Regions from separate parts of the Homo sapiens genome. Here region 2 is linked to region 1. The links come from fine-mapping of genetic effects on gene expression. Tissue or cell type: unexposed skin. Region 1 holds a variant in brackets; the other region holds the start of a gene. All regions are shown on one strand. Distances are between the middles of the regions.

Region 1 (9,784 bases):
GTGAGCAGTGCTAAATATGCAGGAGGACACCCTGAGCACAGCAGGATCTGCTAGGAGGGATACTGGGGAAGGCAACTCGCTTGTGAAAGCCACGTGAATGGATAGGATCACACTGGGAAGAGAGGAGGAGCAAGCAGAGAAGAGGAATGAGAACTGAGCCCTGAAAATGTGCATCTAGGGTAAAAGCAGAGCAGCAGCTGGAAAATGGCCAAGGAATGAGCAGGAGGAGGGAAGAAGAGTAGGAGGAAACTGCCAAACAAAATAAAATTGGAGCTGGGTGCGGTGGTTCATGCTTGAATCCCAGCGCTTTGGGAGGTTGAGGCTGGACAATCACTTAAGGCCAGGAGTTCCAGACCAGCCTGGGCAATATAGCAAGACCCTGTCTCGACAAAAATTAAAAAAAATTAGCAAGGCATGATGGTGCATGCATGTAGCCTCAGTTGAGGCAGGAGGATTGCTTGAGCCCAGGAATTCGAGGTTGCAGTGAGCTATGATCATGCCACTGCATTCCAGCCTGGGTGACAAAGCGAGACACTGTCTCTAAAAAAATTAATTTTTAGGAACTGGATTTAGTAAGGAGAGACTTTATTCAAAAGGATTATTGCAAGGATAGGAAGGGGCAGGAAAGGAGATCATTGCAAATAGGGGGAACCTCTGACTGTTAAGATCTTCCAGAGTCTCAAGATCTAGGCAAACACGTTTTCTGGTTTTGTTTTTTTAATAGGGGAGTAAACACGACCAGAAAGAACAGATGTGGGGAAGTGGAATGGAAGGGCAGCAGGATCAGGTAGATCAGAGGATGTTCGACTCTGGGGCCAACCTCTTCTCCAGAGGGGATGTCTGCCGACTCAGGAAAGTTTAGGGACCTGGGGAAAGGAGGGAAGTTTGGTTAATGAGCATTTTATTCCGATTAATCAGTGGGGAAAAGCAGCTCAGCTAATCATTTAGAAGACTAAGAATGGGAATTTGGAGGGTCTGTGTGTGTGCTCTTGTCATAATTAAACAAGGGAGACATCTAAGAGGCCTAAGTGCTCTGGGAAGATGGCTCTTTGCAGGAAGCTGTCTGCTAGAACACAAAGCATGGGGGGTTTTCTTAACCTTGGCTGTTTCCAGAAGCAAGGGCTGAGACAAAATCCAACATTTTCAGAACCAACAGAGACAGGGTGTCATGAAAGGCTTGGAGAAGAAAGTATTTCAAAATCGAGACCACCCATTGTTAGAGTAAGTCATGCTGGAGTCAAAAAGAAAAAATCAAAAAATGAAAGAAAAAAACTCAGTGTTTTAGTATGAGAATGTTATTACAATTTTTAAAAATTTATTTTGATAATTTCAAGCCTATAGAAAGGTTGCAGGAATAGTACAAATAATTCTTCCTGATTCCCCAAATATTTTACTACGTTTGTTTCTCCATGTGTGTGTGTTCAGCCTCTCAGGTTTCTGTTCCCCTCCGAGTAGGCTCTGGAGTACTGGAGGGTGGGGTAGGCAGAGGAGGGTGGCTCTGGGTGGCCAATTGGGGTCTCCTGGCTGTCCATCTCTGCTGGCAGCTGTAGGCCCTTGCTGGCAAGACTCGGAACCTGATTTCCTGGTTTGGTTATAACAGGTGCTTGCAAGCCAGCCCAGCCTCCCCAGCTCTCACTGACAGACCCTTGGCTCAGTGGACACCCCACCCCATTCCATTGCAGGCCTCAGAGAGGGACTGCTGGCTCTCTGCTTGGGGACCTACCACCTGCCCCCTCAGGAATGGTGGGAAACTTCTGTCTTGTGCCGTGGCTCAGAGAAGATAACCCCTGCCTACCTTCCAACCCCACTGACTTCCCTTTGGAAGATGGTACAGGATCAGGTACTGTTGAGCCTGAGACCTGACTTTCTCCCCAAATCCCAAATGGGGAGCAAGGGGAGGTCTTCCCTACCTCCTCTCTTCTCTCCATCCTCCCCATTCCCAGAACACCCCAGGGCCCACGGTAAGCCATGCCCTTACTTCCTCTAAATCAGGGGTCCCCAACCCCCAGGCCATGGACCAGTACCAGTCTATAGCCTATTAGGAACCAGGCTGCACAGCAGGTGGTAAGCGGTGGAGATGAGCATTACCACCTGAGCTCCGCCTCCTGTCAAATCAGTGGCATCGGATTCTCATAGGACCTCGAACCCCATTGTGAACTGTGCACGCCAAGGATCTAAGTGGCACACTCCACATGAGAATCTAATGCCTGATGACCTGAGGTGGAGCAGTTTCAGCTCCAAATCATCCCCCCAACCCCTATCTGTGGAAAAACTGTCTACCATGACACCAGTCCCTGGTCCCTAAAGATTGGGGACCACTGCTCTAAGTCACATCCTCCTCTCTCCATGGATGCGGCCCCTTCCCTACCTCCTGGGAGAAACTCTAAGGAGTCTTCTGGGTTTGAGTTTTCAAACCTACCACTCTTATTAAATGACCCAAGTCCCTACATCTCCTGCCCTGAGGTGATAAGACTCTTCCTTGGCCTTCCTTAGGGGAAAATTAAAATGCATGGGTCATTTGCAAAGTAGCAGCTTGCTACAACTGTATTTTTCTCAGAGGCCTTCTCTTCAAGAATTAATGTTATCTTCCCCTTTTTGGTCATTTTAAAAGTCATTCTCATAGGGAAATCTTTGACTTTAAATTTTAAAACTTAATAAAATGTAACAAAAGAAAGATATCTGACCAGTAAGCACATGAACAGGTGCCCAACGTCATTAGTCAGCATTAGGGAAATGCAGATCAAAGCCACGAAGAGACACCACTTCACACACACATGAATAGCTAAAATTAGACTATTTTTTATTTTTGGCAGAGATGGGGTCTTGCCATGTTGCCTAGATTGGTCTTAAACTCCTGGGCTCAAGTGATTCTCACGACTCAGCCTCCCAAGGTGCTGGGATTATAAAATCATACTTTTTTTTTTTTTTTTTTTGAGACAGTTTCGCTTTTGTCACACAGGCTGGAGTGCAATGGCGTGATCTTGTCTCACTGCAACCTCTGCCTCCCTGGTTCAAGTGATTCTTCTGTCTCAGCCTCCTGAGTAGCTGGGATTACAGGTGCCCGCCACCACGCCCAGCTAATTTTTGTACTGTTAGTAGAGACGGAGTTTCACCATGTCGGCCAGGCTGGTCTCGAACTCCTGACCTCAGGTGACCCGCCCACCTCGGCCTCCCACAGTGCTGGGATTACAGGTGTGAGCCACCGTGCGTAGCCTGTTGGGTGTTTTGAGTGGCCTCGACAGGAAGATGGCAGCCCATGCTTGTTATCAATTACACACTGCAGGGAGGACCTATTTCTGCTAGTCAAGAGCACCTATTCTACAAACCACATACCGTGGGCTTATATACTAACTACTCCCTGCTTGATTTTGGGCAAGTCAGTGATCTCTGTGCCTTAGTTTCCTCATCTATAAAATGGAAATTAGAATAGTAGTTACCTCCTATTGTTACGAGAATTGAAGGTAAACTCATTTAGTGCGAGCCTAGCACAAGGTTGGCACTGGGTAAGGGTTTGCTACTGTCACTGTTACTCTCTACAGAGTCCACAACCACTGTCTCGAGGTCCTTCCTAAGGTGTCCAGTGTTGCACACAGCAACACAGCACTTCTGCTTATATTCAGTTGGCCATTAGTCACATGTACTGACAAGTATCTCCCTGGCTGCCTTCAGGGAGCTCTTGGCCAATGTCCTAAAAGCTTCCCCACAGCTTTCTGGCCATTCACTCAGACCGGACCCTTCCTCCCTACCACCATTCAAAGCTGTCCCAAAATCCACGGTCCCTCACAACACCTTTCTCAAGTAGCTGAAAGAAAGGCAGTGGTTACAGGACCCTTCCTTCTCAGCGGGTGACCACAGGACCCTGCCGCCCCATTCGACTCACATAAGCATAAAACACATCACCGAATCACAAACTGCAGGCATGCTTCTACTTTGCATAGTTTCATCGGCTTGCAATCCACATAGACTGTGCTGTCAGGCATGAAAATTGTCCACAGAGGGGGCAGGGGGGTGCACATGGATCTGCACCTCATCCTTGGTCACTCTAAGCCACTCGCAGGCATTCTGTAGAGAGCCAATGGTGGCAGCGGTGGGGGGCAGAGGGTCTCCTAACCACTGACCATTCTGACTGCTGGTCCAGCTCCATCACCTTCCCCTCATTTTAACCCCAGGATGGAGGTCTACCTTAATCCCCACTGCTGTCATCTGCTGCCTCCCGGGGCCCATTTCCACCGTCTTTGAAGACATCAGCTTGTGATTCACATGATCCCTCACGACCCCATTTTCTCATTGTTTTGGTAACTTCATTATCTGCATTGGTAAACCAAAAGACACGCCATAACCACGTATCCCTTATCTTGTTTAGGTGGATATATGGCCACTTGAAATAAAGACATTTCCCAGTCTCTCAGTCTCAGACAGGTATGGCCGTGGGACTAATGGCCAATTGAATATAGGCAAAAGTGCTGTGTGCAACTTTGAGACATGTTTTTAAGAAGAGGAAATGCACCCTTTTCTAACCTCCTTTCATGCTGGATGGAGTGTGACTTGACGGCTAGCACACAGCAGCCAGCCTAGGTCATGAGGTGAAAGCCACTTACTGATCTCAAAGGAAAAAGAGGCATCTGACCCCTGATACCATGCACTATTGCACCCTCTCCAAGCTGCCTGTGCCTGTGAAAGGATTCTAGCCCATCTTGTTTAAACCACTGCAGTGACCTAACCCTTACTGACTCCCACCACCATTCCACACTATTATACTTCTGTAGCTTTATACTGTTTTAGGAGATCCAGTGTAACTTCAGATTTACATACCCTCTGCCTCTAGCATCTCAGGAACAGAAACTCTCAGGACAGGCCCCATCTTCTCCTTTCACCACCTAAGTTTCTCTGCTTCAATCACCTGGTGAGGCATTGGCCTGCGAGAGAGCAAGTTCTATTAACAGTAGAGAGCTCAGGAACCCATCCACCCACTTATGGAAACTTGGTATATGTCAGGAGAGTTCTACAGACCAGCGAGAAAGGAGAGACTGTTCAGTAAACAGTGCTGGGACACCTGGTTACAAAGAAAAACAAAATTAGGTCCCTACTAAATACAATCATAAAAATACATTTCAGATGAACTAAAAATCTTATTATGAAAATAAAAATTTAGAAAACCTTGAGGGTAGGGAAGGATCTCTTAAAACAAGATTCAATGGCATAAGCCATACAAGCAAAAAACTGATAGATTTAATAACATTAACATTTAAAAATTACTTGGGTCCAGCAAAACACTCCTAAAGGCAGGGAAGAGAGGCAAGCCACAATGTACCAGACATTTGCAATGCATATAATTAATCAAAGATTAGCATCTCTCCAGAATATATATTTTAAGAGGCTTAAATATCCGTAAGACAAAAAATCCAAGTGAAAAATGGGCAGAGGATATGAACAAGTAACAGAGAAGGAAACTTGGGCTGGGCGCAGTGACTCACACCTGTAATCCCAGCACTTTGGGAGGCCGAGGCGGGTGGATCACGAGGTCAGGAGATCGAGACCCTCCTGGCTAACACGGTGAAACCCCATCTCTACTCAAAATACAAAAAAACTAGCCGGGCGTGATGGCAGGCACCTGTAATCCCAGCTACTCAGGAGGCTGAGGCAGGAGAATGGCATGAACCCGGGAGGCGGAGCTTGCAGTGAGCCAAGATCACGCTGCTGCACTCCAGCCTGGGCGACAGCGCGAGACTCTGTCTAAAAAAATTAATAATAATGAACAGAGAAGGAACCTTGTACAGCCAATACACATATGAAAAGATAATTATAAAACCTAAAGGAAATGACACCCATCCAATCAGACAAGATGAAAAGTCTGATGACACCAAGTATTATAGAGTTGGGGAACTCTCAGATTGCGGATGGAAGGATAAACAGACACATACTTGGAGGGTAATTGGGAATGTCCAGTCAATTGGGGGAATTCCAATACTTCCTCAAATCCACACAATGTGATGGGATGCTCACTGCAGCACAGCTGTAATACAGAAACACTGCAAAACCCCTACAGGTCGATCAATAGCATATAAACAGTAGAACTCATACAATGGAACACTATACAATAGTTAAAATAACTGGGCTGGGCACGGTGGCTCACGCCTGTAATCCCAGCACTTTTGGAGGCCAAGGTGCGTGGATCACCTGCAGTCAGGAGTTTGAGACCAGCCTGGCTAACGTGGTGAAACCCCGTCTCTACTAAAATACAAAATTAGCCAGGCATGGTGGCGGGCAACTGTAATCCCAGCTACTCAGGAAATTGAGACAGGAGAATTGCTTGAACCCAGGAGGCAGAGGTTGCAGTGAGCCAACATCACGCCATTGCACTCTAGCCTGGGTGACAAGAGCAAAACTCCATCTCAAAAAATAAATAAAATAAATGAACTGGAGCTACATTTATACATGCCTCCAGAATGCAATATTTTAAAAAATTATCAAATATGTACAGTATGATACCATTTCTGTAAAGTTAAGAAAACATGCCAACATACAAAACAAAACTAACCATAGATGAGAAGGGCAGAAATCGACTTCAGGACAGGAGGCGGAGGCAACAGGACTGGGGCCACATAC[A/G]AACAGGACTTCAGAACGTGGGTTTTATTTCTAAAGACAAATCTGGAGCAAATATGGAAAGATATTAGTTGACGGGTTACACGGGGGAGATACAGGTGTTTGAACACCAGTACCCTGCTCTTGTTCGGCATGTTCGAATGCTGTCTTTTACAAATTCTCTCATTTTTCTTCTTTGCCATTTGTGTTCTGGGTTCATTTGTCTCCCTGCTCTCTGGGGACCTCCAAGTAGCATCTCCTCCAGTGTCTTTGTTCTCTCCAATGCTCTTCCCTCGTCTTCTCACATGTCCTTGTTTTCTCAGTCTTAACACTTCACCCTAACCATCACCAGGCCCCTTCATTTCTTCCTCCCTCGCTGTCTACTTAAGGGCCCCCAATTTCTGCCTTTACCTCTGAATGTGGTCTCCACCCAGCAACCCTTGGCCAGGCCTTTGAAAGACCTCAAGCTTAATGATTCAAAATATATGTCCAATCCCATCTTTGGAAACCCCACCCTAAAACTGCTCTTCTGAAGATAAACACTGCCATAATTGCCAAATTGAATAAGCTTTTCAGTTTTTCTTTCCCCTTAACCTCTTGCGAGTTGTCACCATCAGGGACCATCCCTGTCTGCTTTACCCGCTCCCCGCTGTGGCTTCCATGACGGCAATGCCCCCCATCCCAGGTCTCTGACCTGCACTACTAATCAGTGGGATTCCACCCGCCAGTGTTCGGCCTCCTCTGTCCTTCCTTCTTAGGGCACCACATTTTCCTCTGCCCTTCCTCAAACAGCCTGGGGGAAAGCAAGCTCCTGTCAAATGTCAAGATACACAATTCTCATTCCTCTCATAATAAAGATGCATTGTCCCGGCACTCATGTTATTCCTGGAACAGGGAGACAGGGGTACCAGTTTGAACCCCAGGGCACACTTGCGTCTTCTCAGCTGTCTGATATACCTAACACCTGCTTGATCTCGGCTCATTGCAGCCTCAGCCTCCTGGGCTTAAGTGATCCTCCCACCTCAGCCTCCAGAGTAGCTGAGACTACAGATGCATGCCACCATGCTTGGCTAATTTTTAAATTTTTTTTTGTACAAAGTCTCACTATGTTGCCCCGGCTGGTCTCAAACTCCTGGGCTCAAGTGATCCTTCCGACTCGACCTCCCGAAGTATTGGGATTACAGGTGTGAGCCACTGTGCTCAGGAAGAGGCACTTCTGAGATTCTCTTTGCAACCCATGATTGATGTACAGAGAAGGCAAAGCCAAACTGTCCACTCTCCCACCACAGTGCCCAGGGCCAAAGCCAGAGAAGGAAAGGAGAGTGGTTTCTGAGCTCAGGCCCTCACAGGCTTCTGCAGAGGGTGAACACTTGCTGAAGGAACCACTGGATGTTTTGGCAACCACCTGGCAGTGTCTGTGCCACCGTGCACAACTGAGTCCAGGGACCTGCTCAGCATCCACAGCCTTACAGCTCAGGGCTGGCAGATGTCAGGCCACCCTGCTCTCCTAACTCCTTTGCTTAGGAAACTTTCTAGTTAAAGAAATGTGTGCAGAGAGGCGAGATCATTAAAAGTTCCTTCAAACAGGGCAAACTGCCTCCATCCTGGGCTCACAGCACAAGTTATCCCAGGGGTGCCCAAGATGCAGGGAGAGGGGTCAACATTTACAACGGACCAAACTCCAAGATTCTAACAGGACTCATCTATTTATTGATATTACTATTAAGCCACTTCCCAGCAGTGTGACTGCCGTAACAAGAACAGGACTCAGTTTCTAAAGGCAATAAAATAACAAGGACATCATGGACAAAGCATTGGGAACACTCCTCGTAGGGAACTGGCTTTTCCTCTCCAGCCAGAGCACCCAGGTGCCAGGGGCCACTCCCGAGCACACTCTTTGCGCATCTCAGCCCTCATGCCGGATGCTCTTCTCCCCGCCCTAATCTGACCTTCTCAGTTCATCTGGATAAACCTGCTGTGCTTCCTGTCCGTGAAGCGAGGCGCTCCCCAAAGCGGGAGCCAAAGTCTGGTGATGAAACAGCTGGCACCAAAGAGCTGGTTCTGCCTCCTCCTCACCAAGTAAACACGTACTTTATTTTTTAAGGAAAGAAAAGTCTTAAAAATATATGGCACTAGAGTGTAAAACTATACAACTGCATCCAATGAAAATTCCCTGCAGCTTGCAGCCTGTGGCACACCATGTCCCTCAGATGTAGAGCTGATGGGAGGCCAGGGTGTCCATGAACGGCCGCACCAGGTTGTCCGTGGAGAAGTAAAAGATGAGCCCGAACGTGATGGAGATGGGGAGGGCGGGCAGCGCCTTCTTGAACACAGCAAGCAGCAGGAGGGTCAGACACAAGCCCTGCAGGACATGGAGGGGAGGGTGAGCGTGGTGATCCCTGGTGTGGACAGGAGCTGTGAGTCATGGTCTAGTCCCTGGGCACAGGAGCTTGTTCGAGGACCAGTCGGATAACGGCGCTAGACACCCCATTATCTTCCCTGGTCCTGCAACAGCTCTTGAGGTGTTAAGGGCAGAAGTTCTCACCCCCATTAGATCACCTCACCTGTTAGTGAGTGAACCAGAAGGCAGGCCTCCTGACTCCTGGAGCAGTGCTGTGCCCCGAGGCCGTGCTGCCTCCCCTGTCTGGCTGGAGTGGTCACATGGGATGGTAAGATGCCCTCAGGGAACATGTATTTATATGAGAGCTAGGTGGGCTCAACTGAAATGGCAGTAAGGTTCTCAGCAGCTGGCACCAAGGGAATCAGAGCCGCCAGGCAACCTGCCCCTGGGAAGCAGGTGTGGGGGCTGCCCATCCTCCCCTGACCCAGCTGATGCAGGCAGTGGTCCAGGTGAGCACAGGGAACCAGGGTGCCTTCTATATCTTTGGGGCCAGCAGGGCTCAGGTAAGGCAGTCTGGTGGTGGAGGAGCCTGGGTCCACCATCCCATCCCTGATATACTTGTGGGCAAAAAGAAAACCTTCTGGACACTGGAGCATCAACCTTAATCATGCCATGCCCAGGGTTTTCACTAAGGGGCAGATGCCAAGCGCACGGCTCAGACGCTCCTCCTCCTCTAACGTGACAGCGAAATCTCTGAGATGAAGTCACGGCAGGACGTCTCCCCATTATGTGTATCTGGTCACGTTAACTGACTACAGGGCCTCCACATTTCACTGCTGTGGTTCACAGTAACGGGGCCAC
Region 2 (10,154 bases), 29 kb after region 1:
AACTAGGTAAGAAACAGATTTCAAAATGCCACAGCAAACTCCCATGGAAATCTGCCTCCACGGAGAAAATCCTAATGGAAAAAGAGGGTTCAAAAGCAGGTTGGGAGTCACTGCACTTACCACGAACACTTGGGGCCGCAGAGAGGTCTGAATCCCGGACACTTGGTTTCTTCTTCTCAGCAGGCTAAATGAATGATGCTCCCTGGCTTTCAAAGAGGGCAGCGCTGGTTTTTAACACGTCACTTTCTATGGTCACACAGCTCCCTCACATCACTCTCCTGACGTCTGAGAAGTCCCACGTCCTCGCTTAAAACAAGGAAGAGTTTGCTAAGGTCAGGTGATACCCAGACAATTGCCCACAGCTTCCCTGCTCACCTTCCTCCCCCTGGCCCTGGGTACCCGACTATGTATTTGGTCCAGCTGACCATCCATCTCAGCTCATATAGTAACACATACCACTTGGGGATGGTTCTCCCTGGCCTAAGCCAGAGCTGGGGCCTGAGTCTCAAAGGGAAGTGAGGTACTGCCCTACCACCCTCCCGGACCACAGGCCCCAGGGGCCCTCTGATGGGGCCTCCTGAATTTTGGGCCAGGCTCTAGACTTACCTCTAACAGCCCTGTCCCACTCAGAAGTGCCTGGGGCCCAGGCAGAGTTCTCTCATTTCCTGAAGCAGCCAGGGAAAAGGGTGGTTTGTGGGGAAGTGGGAGAGGGAGCCCCTAGCACGCCCCTCTGGAGTAGGCTCCAGAAACACATTTATTTTTAAACAAGCAGCAGCAAGTCAGCGGTCAAAAGCAGAGGCTTTGGAGACTGACAGGGTTCAGATCGCCTGCCTATGTGATTTGAACCACATACTCCCTGGCCAAGAGGCCTCAGACAGTCTAATCTGACACAGCTCATTTCCTCTGCTGTAAAAAGCAGAACAGGCATACCTTGCAAGATTATCGTAAAACCTAGAGATAACCTGTAAAGTGTCCAGCACACAGTAGATGTTCAATAAGTCGTAGTTATAAAGAAGATGAAATGGAGGAGGGACACAGTGAGAAAGGACACGGTAGCCTATGGATGTGCCTCTTGGAAAGTTACGGATCTGCTGAACCACCAGACACATGAACTGGCTTCAAAGGCCAGGCCCCAGAGATCAAGTTTCCATTCCCGGCCCAGCCCCAGGCACTATGGCCACGTAAACATATTATCAAATGAAAGGACATATCCATAGGACAATGTCAGAGCTGGCAAGGACCGTAAAGGCCATCAACGCCACCTAGTCAGCTCCCTGTATTATAATTAAGGACAACTGAAGCCTAGAGGGGCAAAAGTAATCAGTTAATGTCCCATGGCCAAAAGCCACAGTTACAACTCAAGTCTCCAAACTGCCCATCAAGGAGCTCTTCTCAGCCCAGTCAGCACTTGTGAGGGTCACGTACCCAGTGGCCAGGGTTTGGTCACACAGGCAGGCCCACCACACACTACACAGGCTTTCTGGGAGCACACTCACAAGACACATGCCTTCACCACGGGCAGGTATGTGTCAAGAAATGCTCCCTAATCACTCACTCACCAGCTCATCTGTCACCTCAAAACTCTCAAGTCTCTCTCCTGCCCCCAGGGCTCACTCTGCTCTCCCTCTGCTACTTGCCCAGGTAGGTTTGGCTCCATGGTGGGGAGTGCCCACATATGGGCATGGGGAGGACAGAGGGCACTGCTTCTCTGGGGCAAAAGGGAGGGTGGGAAAGTGTCCTGCTGTGGGACTGGTAGGATAAATAATTCAAATGCTCTACACAGCCATCAAATCTGCTTTTCCATGAGTACTCAATAAAAGGAAAATTCTGAAGGCATAACAGAAAAAACAGGATACACAAACTTCACCTACGGTTCCCTCCCTCTATTGTTTTAATAGATAAATATGCATATGTGAACAGTGTGGAAGGAAATGCATGTTAAGAGTGGTTATCTCAGCCCAGCGCAATGGCTTATGCTTGTAATACCAGCATTTTGGGAGGCCAAGGTTGGCGGATCACCTGAGGTCAGGAGTTTGAGACCAGCCTGGCCAACATGGTGAAACCCCGCCTCTAATAAAAATACAAAAATTAGCTGGGAGTGGTGGCAGGCACCTGTAATCCCAGCTACCCAGGAGGCTGAGGCAGGAGAGTCGCTAGAACCCGGCAAGCAGAGGTTGCAGTTAGCTGAGATCATACCATCGCACTCCAGCCTGGGCAACAAGAGTGAAACTCCATCTCAAAAAAAATTTTTTTTCCCTAATTTTCTAGAATAAACATGAATTACTTTTATTTTAAAAAGAGTCCAGTAAGTTTCTGGTTAAGGTACAGCAGAATGGTGGACACCCTTTGAATTGTTCTTCCCGTTCTAGAATTTTCACAAAGATGAACAAGCAGCCCATTCTCCCACTCAGTGAAGAGGCTCTCAAGAAATGATCTCCCTCACTGACATCTGATCTTTCCTGAGGACTGATGTGAAACCATTTTTTTTTTTTTGAGATGGAGTTTTGCTCTTGTTGCCCAGGCTGGAGTGCCATGGCCCGATCTCGGCTCACTGCAACCTCCGCCTCCTGGGTTCAAGCGATTCTCCTGCCTCAGCCTCCTGAGTAGCTGGGATTACAGGCATGTGCCACCACGCCCGGCTAATTTTGTATTTTTAGTAAAGATGGGGTTTCTCCATGTTGGTCAGGCTGGTCTCAAACTTCCGACCTCAGGTGATCCACCCACCTCGGCCTCCCAAAGTGCTGGGATTACAGACATGAGCCACAGCACCCAGCCTGAAATCATTCTTTTCTCCAGACATTAACATGATGGTCATCCCATCTCCAGGATTGGAGCCCAGTGGAAAATGTTCCTCTCGGGGCCTCTCAGCCTCACCCCCGCCTTTCCGCAGCTGTGGCAGCTGGGAATAGAACAGGTGGGAATACTTGCAGAAATATTTGCTGTCTTATCAGTCCCCAACTAAACAGTGTCCGAAAGTCAAAGCAACAGCTGAAAACCCGCCAGAGATGTTTTCATTAGACACACTGCATGTGACCTACACACACTGCTTTGGTTTCTTTAAAAAAATTTTGTTTGTTTGTCAGGAAGTTGCTCATGGGGACTCCACAAAACTTTCCCAGCAGTAGTGGAGAGACACGGGTAGGAGTTGAATACAGGAACCTCCTGCGCAAAAACTCAAGAGATAAAGACAGTGTAGCCAGCTATGTTCAAATCCTGGTGCTTAAAGCACTGAAGCCACATAACTGGACTAGCTGCTTAACTCCCTGAACTTGTTTCCTCTTCTGTAAAAAGGTAATAATAAACTATTTCAGTGTCATTGAAATTCTTAAGATCTTAAATTCTAATATTCTGTACAAGATAGCTTTTTATTATGACCAACTCATAAGCGAGATATATGTCATTATTAACATCGATAACAGAGAAAGGCCAAAGTAGGCAAGAGGCAAACCCCCCTTGGGGGGACGGTGAGCAGCTACGGAGGGGAGACAGGTGTGACATTATGCACCACAGCTCCAGGCACCCCAGCAGCAGCCCCTAGCCCTTGCTCCTCCTCCTCCTTGCTGCTCTTTCAAATAGACAGGAACAAGCCACTCACTCCCCACATGTGAACATGCTGGACTCAAGACTTGGCACATGGGCACTTCAACACCAAAGGGTACAGAGTTTTCCCCAAAAACCTGATACATCCATCCCACTTCAAAGCAACATGCCCCCAAGCCCTCACTCCAGTCTCTGCCCTGGAACCCAAGGCTCAACGTGGGCGTCGTGAGGACGCAGCTCTGAGGTGGGGCCAAGAACCAGGCCCCTTCTGCACCTGCGCCAGTCACCGGCTGCCCACAACCACATTCAGGAGAGAAGAACCTGAGGCTCACACACCTGAAGCAGCTTATCCCGAGACTCCAATTACCGCCAAAGGTCTTGGCTGAAGGCCTTGGAGGCTCAGGTGTCTGCAGAATTGGCTACAGAGGCATCAGAGGCTTCCTTACTGGAAGCTGGGGTCGGTCCTAATCAAGTTACTTCGTAGACAGCCTTGGCAACCCCAGGCTGTCGCTTCTGAGTTAAGTTAGTCTACAATCGTCTCTATGGAATGCTCTCAGGTTCTCCATTTGTAAATAGGGATGCAGTTACTTCACTCAACACCGTTCATACCTTTCAAAGGGAATACTTATTAAGGCAATAAACAGGGGTGAGGTCTGCTCGGAGGGATGGACAGCAGATCTAGAAGCCAGGACACTGGGGTCGAAGCCTGGCTCTGCTATATCGTACCTGGGCGACCTTGGGAAAAGTCACTTTAGCTCTGTGGCCTCAGTTTCTTCATCAGTAAAATTCAGAGGGGGGACTAGCTTCTGTCTCAGGTTCCTTCAGCTCCAAAAGCTTGCTTCTGGCTGTCTCCTCACTGCTGGAAATGCCTGATAAAACAGCCAAACACCGCTGCTAACAGAAACCGGCTCTAGGCTTGAGCCTGCGGCCCTGCCCCTCACGTGCGGGCAGAGCCCCCGCGCGCCTCCTTCCCGGGGAAAGCATGCCCAGGACCCGGTGCTAGAGGCCGAATGGACTCGGCGCAACGGAGGTCTCCGGCGAGAGAGAAGAAGAACAAAACGCCCCCGCCTGCTACACGCCTCAGAGACCCACGTGCACCGCTCCTTTAAATGCACCGGCCCTTTAACCGCTCGCGCCGCGCCCACCCCCAGCCGGGGCTCGGCGGCAGGCGGGCGCAGGGAAGTGGGGACGCAGTGAGGCCGAAGGCCTGAGGGCCGCTCCCCGCGATCCTTCCACGACCCAGTTCCGGGCCGGCCCAGCCGCCGCCTGCCGGGCACTCTCCTCTCTCCGCCCCCGCGCTGGCCGCAGAGGCCAGGAGCGCTGCGCACGCAGGGGCCGCAGACCCACAGCCGGGGAAGGGACCGTGGCCAGAGGCGTGCGGAGGGCAGGGCAGGGCCCTCAGGGCGCAGCCCCACCCCGGGCCCTCAGCGCCGCAGGCGACAGGGCCCTGGCCTGGGCACCCCCCGGCACCGCCCGCTCACCTGCTCTGCCGCCGCGCTCCAGCGGAGTTTACGCAGCTGGCTGAGCGCCCGGCCGGACCCGGCGCCGGCCCAGGCCCCGCCCCACGCCCGCCCAGGCCACGCCCGGTGGGCGACGCCGCGTTCCCTCGTCCACTGGGGCCCCACCTGGAGTCCCGGGCGCGCGGGGAGGGTGGCCTTCACGCCGCGTGGATGACAGGGTCATCCCGACGTCGGAACTAAGCGACGACCTTAGAAGGAGTGGAGGCCGGGCCTGTCATCTTCCTGCGGGCCTGGCAGCAGCGTGGGGCGGTAGGACATAGGCTTCGAGGACACTCTTTCTTGTAGTTTTGGGTCCACATCCCCTCCTCCTCCCGGTTGTTCTCACATTAAAGGAGCACTAATGGCCCAATGTGAGCTAACACCATGAGAATGTTCCTGGTCTGTTCCCTAGGGCGCTTCAGAGCCACCAGGAGCTCTGCATAAAATTGAACAGGAATAAATTGCTGCCTGACCTGAGAATTGGCCTAGGGGGTTGTGGTTCCAGGATTTGGGGTCTGTGGGGTAGGTTGAGATTGTCAATAATTTGGCGTTGTCTGAGTAGTTTTACTTTTTTTTTTTTAACTTAAGGTGAAATTCACATAACATAAAATTTACCATTTTAAAGTGGGCATTTCAGTGGCATTTAGTGAATTCACAATGCTGTGCAACCACCACCTCTGTCTAGTTCCAAAACATTTTCCTCATTCCGAAAGAAAAACCCCATACCCATTGAGAAGTTTCTTCCCAATGCCCTCTTCCCCCCCAGCCCCTGGCAATTACCAGTCTACTTCTGTCTCTATATTTACTTACTTTAGATACTTCATATAAACGGAATCACAGTGTGTGGACTTTTGTGTCTTTCACTTAGCATGTTTTCGAGGTTCATCCTCAGGTAGCATGTAACAGACTTTATTCCTTTTTATGACTGAATAGTGTTTGTGTGTGTATATGTATATGTGTGTGCGTGTGTGTGTGTGTATCATGTATGCCACAGTTTATTCATCTATGGACATTGGGGCTGTTTGCATCTTTTGGCTTTGTGAATAATGCTACCATGAACATGCATGTACATGTATTTGTTTGAGAGCCCATTTTTATTTGGGGAGGGTACATACATAGGGGTTGAATTGTTGGATCGCATGGTAATTCAATTTTTTTTTTTTTTTGAGACAGAGCCTTGCTCTGTTGCCCAGCCTAGAGTGCAGTGGCCGCAATCTTGGCTCACTGCAACCTCTGCCTCCCAGGTTCGAGCAATTATCTTGCCTCGGCCTCCTGAGTAGCTGGAGTTACAGGTGTGTGCCACCACATCTGGCTAATTTTTGTATTTTTAGTAGAGATGGGGTTTCCCCATGTTGGCCAGGCTGGTCTTGATCCTGAACTCAAGTTATCTGCCTGCCTTGGCCTCCCACAGTGCTGGATTATAGGCATGAGCCACCGTGCCCAGCCTTCAGTGTTTAACTATTTGGGGAACCCCAAGTGGTTTCCACGATGGCTGAACCATTTTATATTCCTACCAGCAATGTACAGGATCCCAATTTCTCCACATCCTCACCAACACTTGTTATTTTCCATTTTATTGTTATCCTAGTAGGTGTGCAGCGGTACCTCATTCTGGTTTTGGTTTACATTTTCCTAATAACTAATGCTATTAAGCATTCTCCTTTTCATGTGTTTGTTGGCCATCTGTATATCTTCTTTGGAGACATGCCTATTCAAGTCCTTTGCCCATTTTAAAATTGGGTTGTCTTTTTGTTGTTGGGTTGTAAGAGTTCTTTATATATTCTGGACACTAGACCCTTATCAGATATATGCTTTGCAAATATTTCTCTCCCATTCTGTAATTGTCTTTTTCACTTTCTGATGTCCTTTCATGCACATAAAACTTTAATTTTGATGAACTTCAGCTTAACTGTTTTTTCTTTTGTTGTTTGTGCATTTGGTGTCCTGTGTGAGATATCATTGTCAAATCCAAGGTTGTGAAGATTTACTCCTGTGTTTTCTTCTAAGAGTTTTATAGTTTTAGCTCCTATATTTAGGTTGTTGATCCATTTTAAGATAATTTTTGTATGTAGTGTGAGGTTAGGGTCCAAGTTCATTGTTTTGCATGTGGACTTCTAGTTGTCCCAGCACCATTCGTTGAAGAGATTGTCCTTTTCCTATTGAATTGTCTTGGCTTCTTGTCAAAAATCAATTGGCCATAGATGGATGGGGAAAACCAAATATTTTCAAAGAGCTGTTTAAATGCAGATTAACCCTGGATGGAACTGGGGCAGGCCAGCATTTTGGCTAAGAAAATAATGGTCCAAATAATGATCTTTGATAAATTTGAGAAATTAATTACATTTAACAGAATTATAAAAATAATCGATTCTTGGAAAAGGAAGGACACCTGAAGGTCACAAAGTCCAACTCTAACTGATGCATATGAGCCCTTGCTACAGAATTCCTGGGAAATAACTCCCCAACCTGGTTTGTTGTTGTTGTTGTTTTGAAACAGGGTCTTGCTTTTTCGCCCAGGCTGGAGTGCAGTGGCACGATCTCAGATCACTGCAACCTCTGCCTCCCAAGTTCAAGTGATTCTCTTGCCTCAGCCTCCCAAGTTAGCTGGAATTACAGGTATGTGCCACCCTGCCCAGCTAATTTTTGTAATTTTAGTAGAGAGGGGGTTTTTGCCATGTTGACCAGGGTGGTCTCGAATTCCTGACCTGAAGTGACCCTCCCGCTTCGGTCTCCTGAAGTGCTGGGATTAGATTACAGGCATGAGCCACCGCGCCCATCCCTGATTGGTTGTTGTTGTGTTGTTGTTATTTAGCTTTCAGTGTTGCACTTGATAGGCTGAATTTCCCCTAATGTGAAGAGGCTGCATATGCCCTAAGGTGAAGCATAATGACTCAATAAATGAGTTAGGAAGTTGTGATATAATAAAAATAAATATTTGGTCTTTATCCCCGTTCCTGGCACAAGCTTCTAAAACCTTTGGAATCTCAGGTGTGATGAATGTTGTTGGTATGCTAATGAAATGACTGGTGGCTGGGGACCCCTGACTAGCTTCAGGATAGGGGCTGGTGGCCAGAAAGACTAAGGCATGATCTAAACAAACAGAAGACTGCAGCCCTTAATAAGCATTAACAGGATCTGATTTCCAGAGTTACCACATTATAATATTCAAAATGCCCAGGTTTTTTTTTCTTTCAATCAGCTTTTTCAGGTTGAAGTGCCCAGTTTTTGTTTTTTTTTTTTTTTTTGAGACAGAGACTCCCACTGTCACCAGGGCTGGAGTGCAGTGGCGCGATCTCAGCAGCCTGCAACCTCCACCTCCCAGGTTCAAGCGATTCTCCTGCCTCAGCCTTCCGAGTTGCTGGGATTACAGGCACCCACCACCACACCCAGCTAATTTTTTGTATTTTTAGTAGAGACAGGGTTTCATTATGTTGGCCAGGATGGTCTCGAATGCCTGACCTTGTGACCCACCCACCTCGGCATCCCAAAGTGCTGGGATTACAGGCGTGAGCCACCATGCCAGGCCCGAAGTGCCCAGTTTTTAACCAAAAAGTAAATAAATAAATAAAATAGGAAGCATACCAAGAAAAAAGAAAAGTACAACCCATTCACAGGAAAAAGAAATTGATAGAAACCATCCCTGGGGAGGCCTAGACATTGAACTTGCTAGACAAAGACTTTTATTTAAATGTTTAAAAGTTTACTTAAACGTTTATTTAAATGGTCTTAAATATGCTTAACTAACTAAAGGAAACCATGGACAAAGAACTAAAGGAAGCCAGGTAAACAATAAATGTATAAACAGAATATCAGCAAAGAGACAAATTATGAAAAATAAACCAAATCAAAATTCTGGAGCTGAAAAGTACAATAGCTGAAATGAAAATTTTGAAAAGATGAACAACACTGACAAATCTTTAGCTAGACTGAGAAATAAAGAGTAAAGATGCAAATAACTAAAATCAGACATGAAAGTAGGGGCATCACTATGGACCTTACAGGAAAAAAAAAAAAAAGCATTTTAAGTGAATACTGTGAACAACTGTACACAAATGACCAAAACTGACTCAGGAAGAAATAAATCTGAACAAGCTAGGAAAAGTAAAGAGATTGAATCCAATAAGAGGTTGAATCAGTAAGGCCAGGCACGATGGCTCAAGCCTGTAATCCCAGCACTTTGGGAGGCTGAGACGGGCAGATCACGAGGTCAGGAGATTGAGACCAGCAGATCACGAGGTCAGGAGATTGAGACCATCCTGGCTAACACGGTGAAACCCCATCTCTACTAAAAAAAAAAAAAAAAAAGCCGGGTGTGGTGGCAGGCGCCTGTAGTCCCAGCTACTCAGGAGGCTGAGTCGGGAGAATGGCATGAACCCGGGAGGCGGAGCTTGCAGTGAGCCGAGATTGAGCCACTGCATTCCAGTCTGGGTGACAGAGCGAGACTCCATCTCAAAAACAAACAAAAAAAAAAAAGGTTGAATCAGTAATCAAAAACCTCCCCTAAAGCAGGACCAGATGGCTTCAGCTTGGTGAATTTTCTGCCAAACCTTTAAAGAAAAATTAACACCAATTCTCAAACTCTACTAAGAAATAGAAGAGGAGGGAATACTTCTCTGAACTATTTTTTCTCACAACACTTCTGACACCAAGTGTGTGGTTTTTTTATTCCACACAAAAACAATTCTCCAGACACCAAGTGTGTGTCCTACAATTCAATTCAATTCTGATAATATGTACCTGAAGTTAGCAGAAGCTCCCCAGACGTAGCCATTTGGGGGTGTTTATGGAAGTTTTATTGCGTAGGCACCATTGATTGATCAACATCATTGGCCATAAAATCATTGACCCAGGAGGTCAAGGGGTAGGGCTGAACAGTCCAGCCCTCTTTGCCTGGCAAGTTCAATGTCTAGGCTTCCTCACGGATGGCTTCTGTCAGTTTCTTTTTCCTGTGAATGGGTTATACTTTTCTTTTTTTCTTGGTATGCCTTCTAATTTTTTTTGCTGCTGTTAAAAACGACATTTCAACCTGAGGAAGCTGATTGAAAGAAAAAAACTGGTCATTTTGAATATTATAATGTGATAACTCTGGAAATCAGATTCTTTGCCCTTTGCAAG

Direction of the effects. Positions count from the first base shown, and alleles are read on the strand shown. Sizes are in standard deviations (SD) of each study's normalised expression.
In carriers of allele G in region 1, the expression in unexposed skin of the gene that starts at base 5,055 in region 2 tends to be higher than with A alone (small effect, 0.31 SD a copy in GTEx).

Evidence for each region. PIP is the estimated chance that this variant, and not a neighbour inherited with it, causes the effect.
Region 2: it holds the start of PSEN2, and the variant in region 1 is fine-mapped to the expression of PSEN2 in unexposed skin (GTEx, PIP 0.93).

What each region holds. Positions count from the first base shown.
Region 1 is chr1:226,894,584-226,904,367 of GRCh38, reverse strand. PSEN2 (presenilin 2) reads right to left here. Exons shown (of 13, transcript NM_000447.3): 13 at 8,270-8,944. The coding sequence ends at 8,789. Among named protein-coding and RNA genes, the nearest start is that of PSEN2, 29 kb to the right of the region's middle. RefSeq lists a silencer at 8,243-8,474. The variant A/G (reference allele first, on the strand shown) is at 6,607.
Region 2 is chr1:226,865,517-226,875,670 of GRCh38, reverse strand. It overlaps PSEN2 (presenilin 2), which reads right to left and starts at 5,055. Exons shown (of 13, transcript NM_000447.3): 1 at 5,022-5,055; 2 at 4,267-4,409; 3 at 121-306. It overlaps LOC105373119 (a long non-coding RNA gene), which reads left to right and starts at 5,121. Exons shown (of 3, transcript XR_949226.4): 1 at 5,121-5,309. RefSeq lists silencers at 4,593-4,642, 4,653-5,252.